Regions from separate parts of the Homo sapiens genome. Here region 2 is linked to region 1. The links come from fine-mapping of genetic effects on gene expression. A gene starts in region 1. The other region holds a variant in brackets. All regions are shown on one strand. Distances are between the middles of the regions.

The links. PIP is the estimated chance that this variant, and not a neighbour inherited with it, causes the effect.
Region 2: its variant is the best candidate, but not a certain one, in a credible set for the expression of GOT1-DT in cerebellar hemisphere (GTEx, PIP 0.72).

Annotation. Positions count from the first base shown.
Region 1 is chr10:99,429,388-99,432,300 of GRCh38, forward strand. GOT1-DT (GOT1 divergent transcript) reads left to right here and starts at 1,549. Exons shown (of 5, transcript NR_183993.1): 1 at 1,549-1,878. It overlaps GOT1 (glutamic-oxaloacetic transaminase 1), which reads right to left and starts at 1,237. Exons shown (of 9, transcript NM_002079.3): 1 at 1,061-1,237. The coding sequence starts at 1,178. RefSeq lists enhancers at 1,078-1,137, 1,158-1,207, 1,388-1,817.
Region 2 is chr10:100,097,255-100,100,167 of GRCh38, forward strand. No RefSeq gene overlaps it. Among named protein-coding and RNA genes, the nearest start is that of CPN1, 17 kb to the left of the region's middle. The variant G/A (reference allele first, on the strand shown) is at 1,244.

The DNA of each region.
Region 1 (2,913 bases):
AAAACGTTATCTATGAGAAACCTGATTCTGAGCGTCCTTCATGTCACACTCTGCTACAAAATGATTCCACCTTCTCTTTCCACAATTTCTAGTCCTTTTATTCTAAGTCTATTACCTAGCATAAGACTTTATCCTACCCATTTTCATCTCTCTGGCTGGTCTTTGCACGTGGCAAAATCCAAATGGAGAAAATAAGTGTCTGTGGGGCTTCAAACATCCAAATGATAGTGAGAAGAATAACAAATTCATCAGAGAGGGTTAGGGGTAAAAAATTTGAGAGGCACTCCAATATAAATCTTCTTGGCAGATGGGGAAACTGAGGCCCATGCTCTGAGCTGTCCAAGGTACAGAAGAGAATCACTTGAATCAAGAAATGAAGATAGGATGTGTGGAAAGTAAGCTTCTACCATCCATACTTCTCTCCACTCCTTTCCACCATCTCTACCCATTCCTACCACATCTGTGACGGCCAGAACCATCTCCCCAGACCCCCCGGGGGCAGCATTAACCTGTCTCAAAGCATTGTGTAACACCAGCAGATTTTTAAATCCTTAAGGGCAAAATCAAGCCTCAGTCTCCCCCTACAAAGCTTAATAAGGTGGCTGATTGATACTCGGTGGTCACTCAAATATTTACCGACTCAGAACAGAGCTTTCTAGCGTTAAAAGTTCTCCTTTACCCATTTCCTAGCAACCAGAACCCTAAGCCTATCAGGCTTCCTATTTTTCTACCTCTCTCTACAAGCTCCGGCAGCCTCATTTCTTAGGAGGATGCAGTATAAAGAAGGCAGAATGGGGAATCGGAAAGACTGAGTTTGTGTCTTGGCTGCTACACCTGGTTTGTGCGGCCTCGGACACATCGCCCCTTTCCAGGGACTCCACACCTGCATCTGTAAAATGGGCAGGTTTTAGGAAGCCTTCGTGGATCCAGCCTCCTCTCCGGCGCCGCCCTCTTCAGGCAGCGCCACACTGGGCCTCGGCTTCTCCCACAGTCTCCACGACCTGGGTTGGGTCCGCTCCACTCCCCGAGCTGCTCACACTCCAGAGCACTACATCCTTACCTCCCACTCCCAGGTTGACCTTGCGGGGGTCCGGATCCTCCCTGAAGTCGGCAGTGAGCTTGAAGACCAGGACAGGCTGGGCCTGCGGAACCTCGGCAAAGACTGACGGAGGTGCCATATCGAGAGACTAGGAATCAAGAGATTTCACCCCACGCCCGGAGCTGGCAGGTCAGGTCTGGCCGTTGCGACTGGAGGAGACACTCACCTTCACCTAGCCGGCGGGGGCGGGCCCGCGGCCTCCAATGGTCGAGCCGCGTCCAAAGCTTGGCAACGCGATTAACCAATCGCCAGCTTCTGACGACGAAGGCACAGGGGAGAAGGAACGCTATTAGCCAATCCAAGAAAACAATTTATCGGCTGCCGAGAATGATGCAACCAATGCAATTTCCTCCGGCTGAGGCGTGGGCGAAGACTACGGTTGATTGGTAGAGCGTGCTCCTATCGCAGAGGCTGTTATTCCTTGGGTCTCCCGGCTGAGGGGAGGAGCCGAGCGAGCGGCGGGTGTCCCTGAGAGGCCACCTTTCGACCTTCGAGGGCCAGGAGGATACGGGGAGGTGGCCGGAGGGAGTTCCCGAACACAGGTCTTCCTGTTCCCGCCGAGCAGGTGTTGGCGGTGCCAGGCCCGGCCTGGCGGGCCCGGGCTGGCAGCCAAATACCCAGCGTCTGTGCTCGGGACGGGAGTGTTCGTCCAGGACGTGCAGCTCCGGAGCCTGCGCGGGCGACCTTGACCACCTTTGTCGGCTGTTTCCCCCTGAGGGAAGTATACCTGTCCTGCCAGCCTTGGTCTCTGGCAGGGAAGGTCCTTCCAACAGAGAGGGGTGCGCACGAATTCCTTTTTGCCGCTCTTCTATTAATAGTTTGAGATTTTCCTCCCCGATTCCTTGCAGAGAGGGCCTGGTCCTCAAGGACCTCGGGATCTGGGCGCGACGTCCCTTCCCAGCTTCCTCCCGCGCGCACCGGACCAGATCTTGCTGTCGTCAGCTGGCTGGTACCCAAAGTTCCTCTTCGTCAGGCTGTTCCTTCCCCGTTAGAGTCCTTCCTCCCCAGGAGCCCTCTCCATCTGCTGACCTTCAAGACCCAGAGCGAATGCCACTTCATCCATGAAGCCTTCCCTTAACCCTTATCTGGCCAAAATGTCTCTTTCCTGTGCTTCTGTACTTTCACAATTTTAGAAAATGCCTTTGTGGTTAAAAACCTATCTCCGGGACCGGACTATCTAGGTTTAGATTCTGGCTGCCGCTTACGAATTTGGGCAGGTTTAGTCAAGTTATTTTAACCTCTCTGTGGAAGTTCCTGCTCTGTGGAAATAATAGTATTTTCCTCAGAGTTGGTGTGGGGAGTTTGTGAGTTAATACATTTACGAAGTGGTTAGTTGCATGTAAGAAGGACTCTCTAAATGTCAGCTATTATTAACATTGCATATCTGCCACACCCTTCATAGATGGTAAACTGCTTTTTTTTTTTTTTTTACTTTTATTTTAGGTTCGGGATACATGCACAGGTTTGTTTTATAGATAAATTGCTTGTCATGTGGGTTTGTTGTACAAATTATTTTGTCACCCAGATAGTAAGCATAGTACTTGACAGGTATTTTTTCTGATCCTCTCCCTCCTCCCACCCTCTAGCCTCAAGTAGGTCCCAGTGTCTGTTGTTCTCTTCTTTGTGTCCATGTGTTCTCAATGTTTAGCTCCCACTTACAAGTCAGAACATGCAGTATTTGGTTTTCTCTTCCGCATTAGTTCACTTAGGATAAAGGCCTCCAGCTCCATCCATGTTGCTACAAAGGACATGATCTCTTTCTTTTTTATGGCTGCATAGTAGTCCATGGTGTATATGTACCGTATTTTCTTCAG
Region 2 (2,913 bases), 670 kb after region 1:
TTTCTCTTGTGATGTATCTTCTTTTCTCCTAAGCATCTCCACGTGTCTCCCTTTCTGGTTATCCCTCATCTTTGAACAGGGGAGTTTCTGTCTGGATCATGATGTGTTGAAAAATAGGGTAGAGGCCAGGCGCGGTGGCTCACACCTGTAATTCCAGCACTTTGGGAGGCTGAAGTGAGTGGATCACAAGGTCAGGAGATTGAAACCATCCTGGTCAACATGGTGAAACCCCATCTCTACTAAAAAAAAATTAGCTGGGCGTGGTGGTGTGTGCCTGTAGTCCCCACTACTCAGGAGACTGAGGCAGGAGTATCGCTTGAACCCGGGAGGTGGAGGTTGCAGTGAGCCGAGATTGCGCCACTGCACTCCAGGCTGGGTGACAGAGCAAGACTCCGTCTCAAAAAAATAAAAAGGAAGAAAAAGAAAAATAGGGTAGAGCGGAGTGAGGAATGTGAGCAGGAGTCATCCCCAATGCCATTTCGGGTTGTTTTCTCAAACACCTGTCACCATGCTTCTTGGGCTCTATGCTATTATGTCTTTTCTCAGATACTAGAGTTCAGGACATTGGTGTGGCTCAAAACAACCTGCTTTACTCAGGTGCTCTGTGTTGTAATCTGATGATTCTAGTCCCTCCTCCTTCATCCCCCCTCACTAAGACAGACAGTTTGGGAAGATATAAAATGGTGTTGTCAGTCTGGCTCTTCCTTTAGCCACCTCCCTCTTGGTTCTGCCTTCTTGAGTGTCTTTCCCTATTGTCTCTAATTCTCCAGGGGTGTTCCCTATCCCCCAACAACCTATATCAGTTAAGATTAGAATTCAGCTTTAAGTGAGAGAAAGCCCCATATAATTGTAGCTTTATTTCTTTAGTCACACGTAAATGAAGTTTGGAAGCAGGCAGTTCAAGGCCATTGCTGTGCAGTCTCCTTTTAGCTTGTTGCTCTGCCAGGCTCAACATATATTCACCAACTATCCAAGATGGTTCCAGCCTTGTCAGCATGTTCACATTTCAGCCACCAGCAAGGAGCTCACCTTCTCTCCTTTTATTTTTGAGACAAGGTCTTGCCCTGTCACCCAGGCTGAAGCACAAAGGTACAATCATAGCTCACTGCATCCTTTAACTCCTAGGCTTAAGTGATCCTCCTGCCTCAGCCTCCCAAGTAGCCAGAGATACAGGTGCATACCAACATTACAGGTGCACCTGCCAATTTTATAAAACTTTTTGTAGAGACGGAGGTCTCACTAC[G/A]TTGCCCAGGCTGGCCTAAAATACCTGGGCTCAAGTGATTCTCCCACCTCAGCTTCCCAAAGTGCCGTTCCTTCCAATGGGTGTGTGAGGATGGGAATTTTGATTTTAAAAAGAAAAGGAGCCAGGATCTTTAAAATCAAAATTCCCATCCTCACACACCTGTTGGAAGGAACATAAAATGGTGCAACCAGTTTGGAAAACGGTTCTGGCAATTTCTCAAAATGTTAAACATAGAACCATATCACACAGAAATTTTACTCCTAGGTATACACTCAAGAGAAATGGAAACATATGTCCACACAGGACTCGTACAAATGTTCATAGCACCATTATTCAAAATGCAGAATATAATTTAACAACCAAAAGATATAAAATAATATACATGTGACAACATGGATGAATCTCAAACACATTATGCTAAGTGAAAGAAGCCATACATAAAAGACCACTTAGTACATGATTCTATTTATAGAAAATGTTCAGCATAGGCAAATCTATAGAGACAGAAAGTAGGCTCATGGTTGCCCAGGACTGGGACATTGGGGGATTTGGGAGATGGTGGATAAGGGGTGCCAAGTTTCTTTTGGGGATAATAAAAATTATCTTAAAATGTAGTGATAGTTGCTTAACTCTGAATATACTAAAAGCCATTGAATTGTACACTTTAAATGGTGGAATTGTGTGGTGTGTGAACTATATCTCAATAAAGCTATTAAAAAACGGCACACTTTCCATAATTTCACATGCCACTTTCACTTACATTCCATAGGCTAGAACTTATGGCCATGCCTATGTACAAGGGAAGCAGATAAATACAGTCTTTATCCCATCTAAAAACCATAGGTTCCATTACAATAGAGATAATGATATTGCAGAACAGTGGCCATGTCTGCCCCACCCTTAGTCAGACCTTAGACCTTGTCAGTCCACCCACAGAGGATCCTTGATGCGTTTCTCGGGAGCACGGCACTTCATCTTAGGGAAATTGATCTCTTTCCCAGAGTCTCTACAAGGATGTGTTGGCTCTGAATCCTCACATATTTTGGATCAAAATTCATTTCATTCAGCAGTCATCCTCCGTGGTTTTGTTTTATAACTTTTCTCCTGTTTATTGAAAGTAGAAGTTTCTTTTTTATTTTTTTGCTCTTGGCTTTCAGTTGGTTTCAAGAGTTGGAAGTGAATTCAAAATTCCCCTTTCCCACTATCTTTGCCTCGAATTTGCCAGAATAAATATTCTTGTGTTTTCTTTTTTCTTTTCTTTCTTTTTTTTTGGAACAAATTCTCACTCTGTCACCCAGACCGGAATGCAGTGGCACAGTCACAGCTCACTGCAGCCTCTACCTTCCAGGCTCAATCAATCCACCTGTCTCAGCCTCCCAAGTAGCTGGGGCTATAGGTGCACAACACTATGCCTGGCCAGTTTTTAAACTTTTTGTAGAGATGGAGCCCCACTATGTTGCCCAGGCTGGTCTCCAACTACAAGGCTTAAGCAATCTACCTACCTTGGCCTTCCGAAGTGCTGAGATTACAGGTGTGACCCATTGTTCCTAGCCCATGTTTTCTTCTAAACACAGCTTTGTAACCCTTCTGGGATTTCCCATACTTTCTGCACCTAATTTTTTGTGTTGTTTTGTTTTGGTTTTTTTGAGACAGAGTCTTGCTCTGTTGCT